Regions from separate parts of the Homo sapiens genome. Here region 2 is linked to region 1. Evidence: fine-mapped expression QTL. A gene starts in region 1. The other region holds a variant in brackets. All regions are shown on one strand. Distances are between the middles of the regions. Region 1 holds the start of IGF2BP2 (insulin like growth factor 2 mRNA binding protein 2). Region 2 overlaps IGF2BP2 (insulin like growth factor 2 mRNA binding protein 2).

The links. PIP is the estimated chance that this variant, and not a neighbour inherited with it, causes the effect. A credible set is the group of variants that fine-mapping cannot tell apart.
Region 2: its variant is the best candidate, but not a certain one, in a credible set for the expression of IGF2BP2 in tibial nerve (GTEx, PIP 0.68).

The regions. Positions count from the first base shown.
Region 1 is chr3:185,821,838-185,827,209 of GRCh38, forward strand. IGF2BP2 (insulin like growth factor 2 mRNA binding protein 2) reads right to left here and starts at 3,205. Exons shown (of 16, transcript NM_006548.6): 1 at 2,946-3,205; 2 at 1,316-1,376. The coding sequence starts at 3,123. RefSeq lists an enhancer at 1,208-2,071 and silencers at 3,011-3,241, 3,253-3,522, 3,933-4,022.
Region 2 is chr3:185,762,415-185,767,768 of GRCh38, forward strand. All of the region lies in intron 2 of IGF2BP2 (insulin like growth factor 2 mRNA binding protein 2), which reads right to left. Among named protein-coding and RNA genes, the nearest start is that of MIR548AQ, 2.8 kb to the right of the region's middle. The variant T/C (reference allele first, on the strand shown) is at 2,416.

The DNA of each region.
Region 1 (5,372 bases):
AACTTGGATTTCTCAAGCAAAAAATATTATTTTAAAGAAAAGTATACAAATTTAGAATACCTTATTGAAAACCAATTGGTTACACGTTACATCTTTCCCAATAGAGGAAAGAACTAGCTTAATATTACACATGAAACTGCAAATCATAACTCACCTTTTTTAAATTAAAAAAAAAACAGGATTTAAGTAATTTTCTCATATGCCACAGAGATTATTTGCAAACAAAAGTTATTCTGTTGCTTACTTAAAATAAAACATATCTGGAAATGTGGCACACAATTTTTAAAAATCCCTTCAGCAACACATCTAAGTATTTATAAAATTAGGGTAGTTTGTTTTAAAATCTACTCAATCCTGACAAAAATCAGGTGGTTAAACTATTGACTGATAAACTGTAAAGGTGGTCATCAAAAACTTCATTGAACAGCTCCAGTCCAGCTACTTAATGACTAATGGTGAAGAAATGTATGTGAATGGGATATAAACTAAGTTTCGACACACAGCAGAAGAAAAAAATTTAGAATGAGTAATAAAGGGCCCAAATTTAAAGTCCACAATAAACTTTAAACAAAGATGTTTTCTCTTCTCTTCTCATGTTAGCAAATCACTGTGGAGAAATCCAACCTCCACAAAACTTGTTACTCCGTCATTAACAACAGTGCACTTAAATATAACTATAGATTTCACAAGGGTATTTATTTTAGCCGCAAACATTTCTTACAAGCAACAACAACAAAATGCTCAGAAGCTATACTCAGTAGTCTCAGTGACTGAAAAAGTCCGGCTTTTAACTGCCATCCAATCCAAACAACCCACTTCTTTAGAAAGCTATGCAAAATATTGACCCCTTACTGAATTATTTTACTATTCAACATTAAACTATCTAAAAGAGAAAAGTAATTAATCGCTAAGTTTAGTTAAGCAATTTAGCTGACATAGTAAATATTTACTCTTCACATCTCACAGGAAGTCTTGACAAGCATTTGCTGCTATTCTGCTGGGGGTAGGGGCGGGAGGTGGGGGTGGGAGGCAATTTTTGATAAACAAGTTACAGGGTCCCAGCGAACTGAACATAGCTGGTGTTCGCCACCCCGACCCCCAATTAGGCACCAGATATTTTCCAAGAACAGTAAACACCTTATATAATGAAAGTAAAAAAAAAAAAAGTAGCTTTCTAAACTATGTATCTCCACTAACAAAACAAACAAAAGCCCCTTTAAAAACTACCAAGAGCACGTTTTTTAAAGCTGTGTGTACGTTTTTTACTTATACGTAAGGCCAATCGCAAAAAAAAAACTAAGCAAAGTATATTTACCTTAGCTTTTTAGAGACTGAGTAATCAACTTCCATGATTTTCCCATGCAATTCCACTTTACCTTTAAAACAGAAATTAAAGCACTCAGAACCTTGCTTAGATCAAGCCCGCGGGGGTCTAGGGGGGGCACGCACGGAACTCCACGCTCGGGCTCCGCCTTCGGGCGCCCCCAAGGGGTCTCCTACCCGGATCGAGCTGGGCGAACTTGGTTCCCAGTAGAAAGAAAGGTGGGCGCCCCGTGTCTCGGGACAAGGCGAGGAGGGTGCGAGCCCGGGTCGGACCCCAGGTATAGCCGTGGGTGGCATTACCGGAAAAACAAATTTAATAAAGAGCGGCGCCAATTTGAAAGGATGAGCTCATTTGAAACTCAAGCTGCAGGGCTGGCGCGGCCCCGCTGCTCTCCCGGCCCCCACCTCTCCATTCCGCTAATCCGGGGCCCGAAGGCTCCACCGGGCTCCCCTCCCTGCCCTCTCCTCCCGGTGGCCCCGAGAAAACGAGCCGAAGCCCCCCGGAGTCCGCCGCAGCGACAGCCCTGTCCCTGCCCGCTCCTGGGTGTCACCTTGGCCTCGCCGCCGCCCCGCCCCCACTCCACACGCCGGTGGGGAAGGGGCTCCCGCCGGGCCGGGGTTCGGGGGGCGCCGGCCGGGGCCCGGGGGCCCGCGCGGCTGGGAGCGGAGCGTGTGCTGGGGAGAGTTGGGGAGTGCGCGCGCGCGAGTGTGTGTGTGTGTCGCTCTCCGTCTCCTGTCTGGGCTCCAGCGCGCTCGCGGGCCCCCCGGTCGCCTCTTTCCCGGTTCTCAACCCTGGCCCCCACCGAGTTGAGACAGGGCACCTCGTAAAAAGGTGCTTCTGGCCGAGCGGGAGGCGGGGGGACGGGCGGCGGAAAGCCCCCAGCCCCGAGTTCTTCTCAATAAAATCGGACAAAAAATTCAGAGAAAAATAGGAGCGCTTGAGAGAGCAAGCGAGAGGGGACTGAGGTTCGGGAAAGGACCGAGGGGATGTGCCGTCGTGCGAGGGCTGGGGCTGGGGGAGCCCCGAGATCTCGAAGGGGGTCACCAGGGTGGCGCCGAGGGGGTGCCAAAAGTGGGGGGCCGTGGGGCGAGGTGGGGAGGGGGCTCGAAAGGAGAGTGCGGCTCAGGAGACGCCAGAGGGCGAGAGGTTCTGGGCACGAGGCACTGGAAGAGAGAAGGTCCGGCCGGGGGAGGAGGAAGAGACGCTGGATTTGGGGAAGGGGGGACCCTGACAAAGGGGGTGACAGGAAGGTCAGGGGAGAAGTGAGACAGGGGACGCTCAAAGGGTGGGGGGCGGGGAAGCTCAGAGCAGCCCGGGGCGCCAGGCGAACGAGGGGTGCCCCTAAGGAGCCGGCGAGCCTCGGGAGCCTTCGGAGCGGCACGGGGGGCGCCCCAAGGCTGCGGCCCCGAGGGCGAGGGCAGAGTCCAGAGCTGTGGGGGGAGGGGAGCGGGCCGTCCCAGGAGCGGGCCGGCGGCGAGAGTTGAGGGTCTGGTGCGTGGAAGTGAGCGTGCGGGCGCGGGAGCCGCCGCCGGGCGCCGCCCGCCGGACTCGGCCTCCCTCCCGGCGCCGTCCCGGCCTGAGCGGGGCGAGGCGGGGGGAGGGGGCCGCGCTGAGTGCTCACCCGAGAGGGTCTCGATGGCGCGGATGGCCCAGTTCTGGTCGGGGTAGTCCACGAAGGCGTAGCCGGACTTCAGCAGGACCTGTCCCGCCAGGGGCAGCTTCCTGTCCCCAAAGAGCTGCCGGAGGTCGTCGGCGGTGACGGCGGGGCTCAGGTTCCCGATGTAAAGCTTGTTCATCATCCGTCTCTTCCCCGAGAGCCCGCGGCTCCCCCGGCCCGGTACCCGGCGCTCCTCGCCTCCTCCGCTGCCCTCGTCTCTCCTCCTCCTCCGCCCCCCCTCCCCGCCCTCCGCCCGCCCGCCACCCACCCCCACCCTCAGCCTGGCTCCCCCCACCGCGGCCGGCCCGGCCCGCCCGGGGGCAGAGGCGGAGGCGGGGACTCGGCGCGGCTGCCTCCTCGGGGCAGAGTCCCGGGCCGGGCGGCGGCGCGCGGACAAAGCGCTCTCTCTGCCTCCCTCTCTCTCCCTCTCAAGGCGGTGGCGGGAGGAGGAGCAGCGGCGGGCGGCGGCAGCGCACCCCGCGTGTGTCTGTGTGAGAGTTTGTACGGGCGTGTGCGCAGCCGAGAGGGAGCGAGCGAGCGCCCCCTCCCCGCCCCGCGCCGCTGCGCCCCTCGCCTCGCGCCCACCGCGCTCGGCAGTGGCTGCTCGGGCTCCGGCCCCGCGCCAGGCGGGCGGAAGCGGGTCGCGGCCCCGGGCTGGGGCTCCGGGCGCCGGAACCCCGGGCGGGCGCGGCGCCGAGGCCGGGCGAGCGGCGGGGCGGGGAAGGCGCGCCCCGGGCGCGGGTGGGAGCGCGCGAGGGGGCGACGGGGAGCCGCGGGCGTGGGAGGGAGAGGGGCTGCGAGTGAGCGCGGAGAGGGGTGTGCGCAAGGTGGACCGGATGTGAGTGCGCTGCTGCCAGGGCAAGCGGGAAGGTGTGTCCCGGAGGTGAGAGGCGAGGGCAGGCTGGGAGACAACAACTTTCGCAGCGACTTGGCCGGGGCTGGCGCCCTGCGCGTTCCCGGGCCGTGCGCTCGCTCTGAGACCCGCTCCCCGCCACGCTCTCTGAGGTGACCGAGCGGCGCGTGTGGTCGAAGGATCGCGCGCGGGAGTCGGGACGCCTAGGACCGGGGTTGGCCGGGCCCTCGCGGACCGTGCTCGCGGGGAAGTGGTTCCCGGTCCCGGGCCTCAGTTTCCCGACCGGGGAGGGAAGGCGGAAGGCCAGCGCGGAGTCACGTCCTCTCCGCCCAGACCCCGCGTGTCCGGAACCCCGCGGCAGGCGGCAGCCTGACGTTGGCAGCTGCTCTCTATTCTGGGAAGTGCCGAGGGCTTCCCGGGCGGCGGCGGCGAAAGCCAGGTGGCGGGTGGGGAAACGAACGCCGAGGGGCCAGGGACTGCGGCGAGGCCGGAGCGCTGGGGTCAGCGGCCGGGGGACGGATGGTCGCCGCCCGGCTGCGCGGCCGGTTCAGCTCCAAAGCCAGGGTGGTGGGAGGCGAGGGTGGCTGGAAGCGGAGGAGCGCAGGCTGTGTAGGAGTTCCCCGAGCACTGGGAAGGGCCCGGAGAGGAAAGAGGTCCTTCCAAGCGGAGGAAACAACGTGACCGACGGAAGAGGCAGGGTTGGGATGAGAGCAGGCTGGAGCCGAGGGGCTCGGGCAGGAGCCAGACAGGCTAGAGCGGGCTGCAAGTTCCGGGGCCCGGCTGGAAGCCTGATGGTTAGAGCCTGGTCCCAGCCAGGAAATGAAATTCTACAGGAGGGAGAAGAATGGCGGGATTCAGAGGTGAGGAGGCAGAAGAAGATTCCAAGCTCTGGACCTCTGGGGGCCACTGGGAGAGTTGAAGGTTTGATCGCGGATATGTTGGGTTTTGTGAAGGCGTTGGGGCGCGGGTGCGGGGAGTGTCCTTGGGTGGAGAAGTCACGAATGTAGGAATGGAACAAGTTCGGGTCTCCTGACTGGGTCGTGAAGTAGTATTGTCTTTCCCAAGCTTTCCTGTTGATGAGCGGCGTGGAGAGAATGGGGCTTGCTGGATTTTGTATTTTCCGCAAGTACTCCCAGGTGATTCTGGTCTGGTAAACACTGTTGGAGTGGAAGGCCTATCTGCCCCGGACTCAGACCTTCTCTCTGCCCCCATCTTTGTGCCCTGAGATGTTCCAGCATTCTCGAGCCTAAGTTTCTTCATCTATAAGGAGATAAAATAACCAGTCCTCGCAGGGCTGTTGTGAGGGCTACAAGAAGGATAACTGCCTAGCGTGTTGAGACATGGGTGGTCAGACACTTAATGCCTGTTTCTCTTCTTTCCCCCAGGAATTCATGAACTTTTAAAATACTTTATTCTACAGAAGGAGATCTTCTTAACTAATTAGGTATCCAGAGGAGAAAGTAATGAATCCATTTTCACCTAGATATTTGCAGTTATTTGAATTCTGGCTTTTGTCTCAAGTATTCACATATTTTTTT
Region 2 (5,354 bases), 59 kb before region 1:
CCCAACTACTCAGGAGGCTGAGGCAGGAGAATCGCTTGAACCTAGGAGGTGGAGGTTGCAGTGAGACAAGATCATGCCACTGCACTCCAGCCTGGGTGACAGAGGGAAGCTCGGTCTCAAAAAAAAAAAAAAAGAAAAGAAAAAGAAAAAGAGACACAAATTTGGGAAATACCATGTTTGAGAGACAGTGTGTTTTGATAGTATTTGAATACAGGTCAAATCCCTTGAAGAAGCTTAGATATAATAATAGAGGTGAATGCAATAATAGAGCTTATACTGGCTGCAGTCTACTTCAGTTACTGCTCTAGGAAGAAGCAGCCTTCAAGAGGGGAGAAAAGTCTGGGCAATTGAAGAGGCACAGATGAGTTTCTTAATAATAGCAAATGGATGAATTTTATCCAAGTGCTTTAAAGTACATTTAACACAGAACAATCTGCAGCAGCTATTCTCACCCCCACCAAAACCTCCCTTCCTCAAGATGAACCAATCTCCTGGTTTTTTCAACAATATGAGAAGAGCAAAATACTTACTTTTTATTTGTTAAGAAGGTTTATCTGCCTAGAATGTGATTCTCAAGCCTGGATACAGGGGATCCCAAAACAGGGATTCATTAGAATCACCTGTATAGATGTTTTTTTGTTTTGTTTTGTTTTTAACAACAAAAAATAAAGCAGCTAAGCCCACCCAGAGATTCTAATTTAACTGGTCTGGGATTGGATCCAGGCACTGGTATTTTTTTTAAAAAAACTTCCCAGTGATTCCAACATAAACCTGGGTTGAGAATCAATGGTCTGTACAAACACCTCCTCTTTCTACACCAAGTCCTATCTGTGGGGTTTCTGTTTTTGTTTTTTCCATTTTAAAACAAGCTTTTTCTCTCTTCAAGGCTGAATCTCCTCCATGTACTGTACCAAAATTACCCTACCTTAGTAGGTCCCTGGTCATGTAATTGTTCCTGACACTCCAAGGTTAAAGCATTTGTATTTCTCCTGCGACTTAAGCATTTATGGATATACTCAGCATTATATTCATAATGTAACCAGCATGTTTATGTTTGTTACTATGGTTTGTGCTTAAGTTACAAGCTTGTCTTATCTCCCTTGTTTGATTCAGCAGATGATTTTGGAATGCATATTATGTGAATGTCACTGTGCTCAAGGCCTGTGGAGGCTACAAAAATGTAAAGCCATTCTTGTAGCTGTCAAGGAACTTAAAATCCAGAATGGAGATAAGACAGAAATAAATAACACCACCATATAGAATATAAAATCTGTAACAGACAGCCAAGGTATACTAGACTACTCTCAGCTGCAGAACAAAGACATATATCAAAATGCTAACAGTGGTTATCTCCAGGAAGTGGGATTAAGAATGTTCTTTGTTTTTGCGTGTTTTTTTTAAGTCTTTTACAGGATGTATGTTATGGGAAACAGTCTCTAAAGAAGGAGAAATCTGTTTGAAGGATGGAAAGTTGACGGGTGGAGAAGGGGCATGAGCAAAGGCAAAGCACCAAATGTATTTGGTGACAGTGGGTAACTCCGTTCTGCTGCTGTTTCTTGGAGTGAGGGCAGAGAGAGAAGAGGGTGAGGTCAGAAGGATTGTAGCAGTATTGCCAAAACCTTGAATGTCATAGAGAGGATTTTTAATTGGCAAATGGGAGCCACTAAAGGTTTTTAAATGGTACTTTTCCTTATTATAAAAATAACACTTTTCTTAAAAAATACTATTATATGTCTATTATATAAGTAATTGGAAAGGAGTAAAATCCATAAAGTAAATAAAAATTATCACCAGAAAGCTCATCACTCAGAAAAAAAAAATTGCTAATATTTTGGCACATTTCCTTTCAGTCTTTTCTGTCTGCAGTCATGAAAGATTTTTTAAGCAGGAATGTGACCTCATCAGGGCTATGCTTTAGGAGGCTGGGTTATGAGATGTCCGAAGCACAAAGTGGCTTCCTCACACACATTCTCTACTTCTTCTGCTTATGTTTTTGCTGCAGATCCACAAATAGGTCCCAAGGGGCAAGCAGAACCTGAGGGGAAAGCCCAAGGCTGAAGCCTAGGGAGAAGCATTCCTAATATTCAGTGAAACAGACAAGAAGCCCTTGATGGAGGTGAAGAGACCAATCTGCAGAGCAGCAACAGGTTATCAGGAAGGGGAGTCTTGTCTTGAGAAGGGAGGTTGTTTCACAGGACCGCAGAGAGCTTTTCTAGAGATCATCTTCACCATGATTCCCAGTGGGGAGATTCCTAAAAATAGGCAATTACCACATCTTGTATGTGATAATTATATTACGATAAAACAGCTCATAGTATGACAGCTACTGCCTGTGAGTAAGAAATCGTGTTGCCTCTGAGATCACAGCTTCAAGAAGGGGTTGACCTGTGTCAAAATCCCCTGACAGGCTTTATT[T/C]GTCAAGTCAGTTCTCACAGCACTCAGCCTTGCCCCCAGCTCTGAGACAATGGGGCTCTGTGTAGGAGCAGAGGCCAAAATCTGGAAGGACACTGGCACGCCTCTTCTACCCCCACGAGGTGTTTATTATTTTGCTTGCAAACAGGCTGGGTCCAGTGTTTTACTTTCTTCCCCCTTCTTCCCTTTGCTAATTTTATCTCAATTTCAAATTAGTATTTTTCAAGAGATAATTTACTTAATTCCCAGCCCCTCCTACCCGTTTATGACTTAGGAATGAATGTAAGCACAAAACATCTTGTGATGGCCTCAAAATAGAAAGCAAGTTTAAAGTTTTATTTTTCTGTCCCAAAGCTGCCAAAGCTCTGGCGTGTTTTAACTTCTGCTCTACACACTGTTTCCCCCTCCGTCCCTCCCATCCAGCTATATTTAGTAAAGCCCAAATAAAAGGGATACATACAAAGCAAAATTAAATATAGTTTCTTTCAATCAGTAAACCTGAGTTAAAGCTCATACAAACATTCATATACTAAGAAGTACTCTCCTCCTCCAAAGACAGCTCACAGCCTCACCTGTCTCACACCAAGTAGCAGGTGCGCCTAGAAAGGCAAACACACCACCTCCCCTCCTTAATCTCAGACCACTCCTTCCCCCCTTGATCCCACACTGCCCTCCTTCAGTGCCACCCCCACCTCTATGCTCTCCATTTCTAGATGCCAGTGTACCTACATCACACTCTACACTCCACCTGCACCTAGAGGGAAAAGAGGAGAATTGAGAAAGGTCCATCTATTAATACATGAAAGGCACGCAGAAGTGCTCGAGGACCAAGGGAGTGTAGACCAGGCTGCTCCAAAGCACACCACTGCAGCAGCTTCACCCCACATCTTCATCTCCAGTGACTGATGTCAAACTTATCTTTGACTTTCATTGGCTGAAAGAAATTCTATGGGACTTGGGTGCAAGGAAGACACTCTGATTCTGGTTTTCTAATAGGGATGAAGATATTATAATGGTAACAAGATTTTGGGGGGAAAATTCTTGTCCACAAGGCAGCAAAGCTGTAAAGCTAAATACGGAACATGCCAAAGAAGGGAATGAGGCAGGTTTACGGAGGAGAGTTTGTGGGCATGGGTATGGGAATGTCTCCAAATGCAACTTTTCCCATAAAAGAAGTATCTGACTGCCCCATCCCTTTTCCAAAACCAAAGGCACACATGAAGATGGGAGAAAATGTGGAGGTTCTAAGAACCCGATGGCTGGGTAGCAAACTCATCCTTCTCGGGATGCTTTCACCTAAATAAAGCCCAAGGTGCTATACACGGCCACTAAGCATATTTAATTCTACTATCAAAGAGGAAGCTACTACCAGGTCCAGTGAATAGCAATAAAACTATTTAGACAATATCATCAAAGCCCCAAATTTATTTGCCACTACATTAAGGCAAAACAATTTAAAATATTTTAAATTTAAATTTAAATACATTTTAAAATATTTTAAGTATAATGATCTAGAACGTGGACCAACAAACTACGGTTGATAGGTCAAATCCAGCCAGCCACCTGTTTTTGTATAGTCTACAAGCTAAGAATGTTTTTCCCTTTTTTTAAATGGTTGGAAAAAAAATAAAAAGAATATTCCGTGACATGTGAAAATTATACAAAATTCAAATCTCAGTGTCCATAAATAAAGTTTTATTGGAACACAGCCATGCTCATCCATTTACATATTGTCTATGGCTGCTCTTGCAGAGTTGAATAGGTACTAAAGGGATAGTATCATCTAACAAGCCAAAAATATTTACTAGCTAGTGCTTTACAGAAAAAGTTTGCCAACCCCTGGTCTAGAGACAAACCTGGGTTGTGAAAAATACTTTTTACTGATTTCATTTAATACTTTATAGTTTTCCCTGGTATATTCACACCTATTACTTTCATTTTATCTTCACTCCAAGTCAGTGAGTTATATCCTGTTTAGAGATGAGATCGCAAGTTTGAAAGTGGACTTGCCCAAGGTCATGCAGCAGTTAAGAGGCAAGGCCAGGGCTACACCCCAGTTTTCTGACCTATATCCCAAGGTGTTCACAACACACAGCTGTCTTCTTGGATGCCTGCTAATTGTAGCTGCCGTCTTTTAGACATTCTCTCCACATTTGATAGTTCACCTTAGTGTAAAGTCCCTCCTTCCTAAAATAGGACTGAAAACAAACTGCCCAGCCCCACTTCCTGCTAGGATAGAGACACACAACTGTGGACCCAGTGGCTTCCCAATCTGGCAGAGGCAGTTGTGGGAGAAGCTTCTCGATGGTGGCATAGGCAACAGCTCTCTTGGCAGACCAGTTCTGCAGACTATCAAGAAGCTCCACCTGCAGCCTGTTTCTTCAGCCTGTCCGACAATTCTGTGATCTATCTATATACCTCAATGCATTCTTTTGTGCTTAATCTAGCTACTCTGTGGATTCTGTTCTCCACAACGATGACCAGAGACCAACACAAGTTCAGAAGAAATCCTTATAATACTACAGTGTTTCCTAAAACCTTCCAGAACAACTTCCCACCATCATTACTATCTTCTAAAATCCAATCCCATTTCCATAAGATGTTAAAGGATTCTGTAGTTATGTAAATAAATTATAAAACATCAAGTTAAACAGATTTCTTTACTACAGGACTTCTCAGAGCCTTAAAATGCATGTGTGCTTCACAAATCTCCAAGAAAGGGACAAGTATACAACATTTGAAAAATGTATTTGACCACTGAACCATTTTTTAATATGTCTTACCAGTACAGTAATATATTTGGGGAAATATTGATCAACATACCTTCTACTTGGAAAAAAAAGTTTATAATTATAAAATATTTTAAAATAAGGCTGCTGAAATGAGGAATACAATTCTGGAATATGTTGGGTGAAATTATGGAATGTATTAGGGTTGAAAAT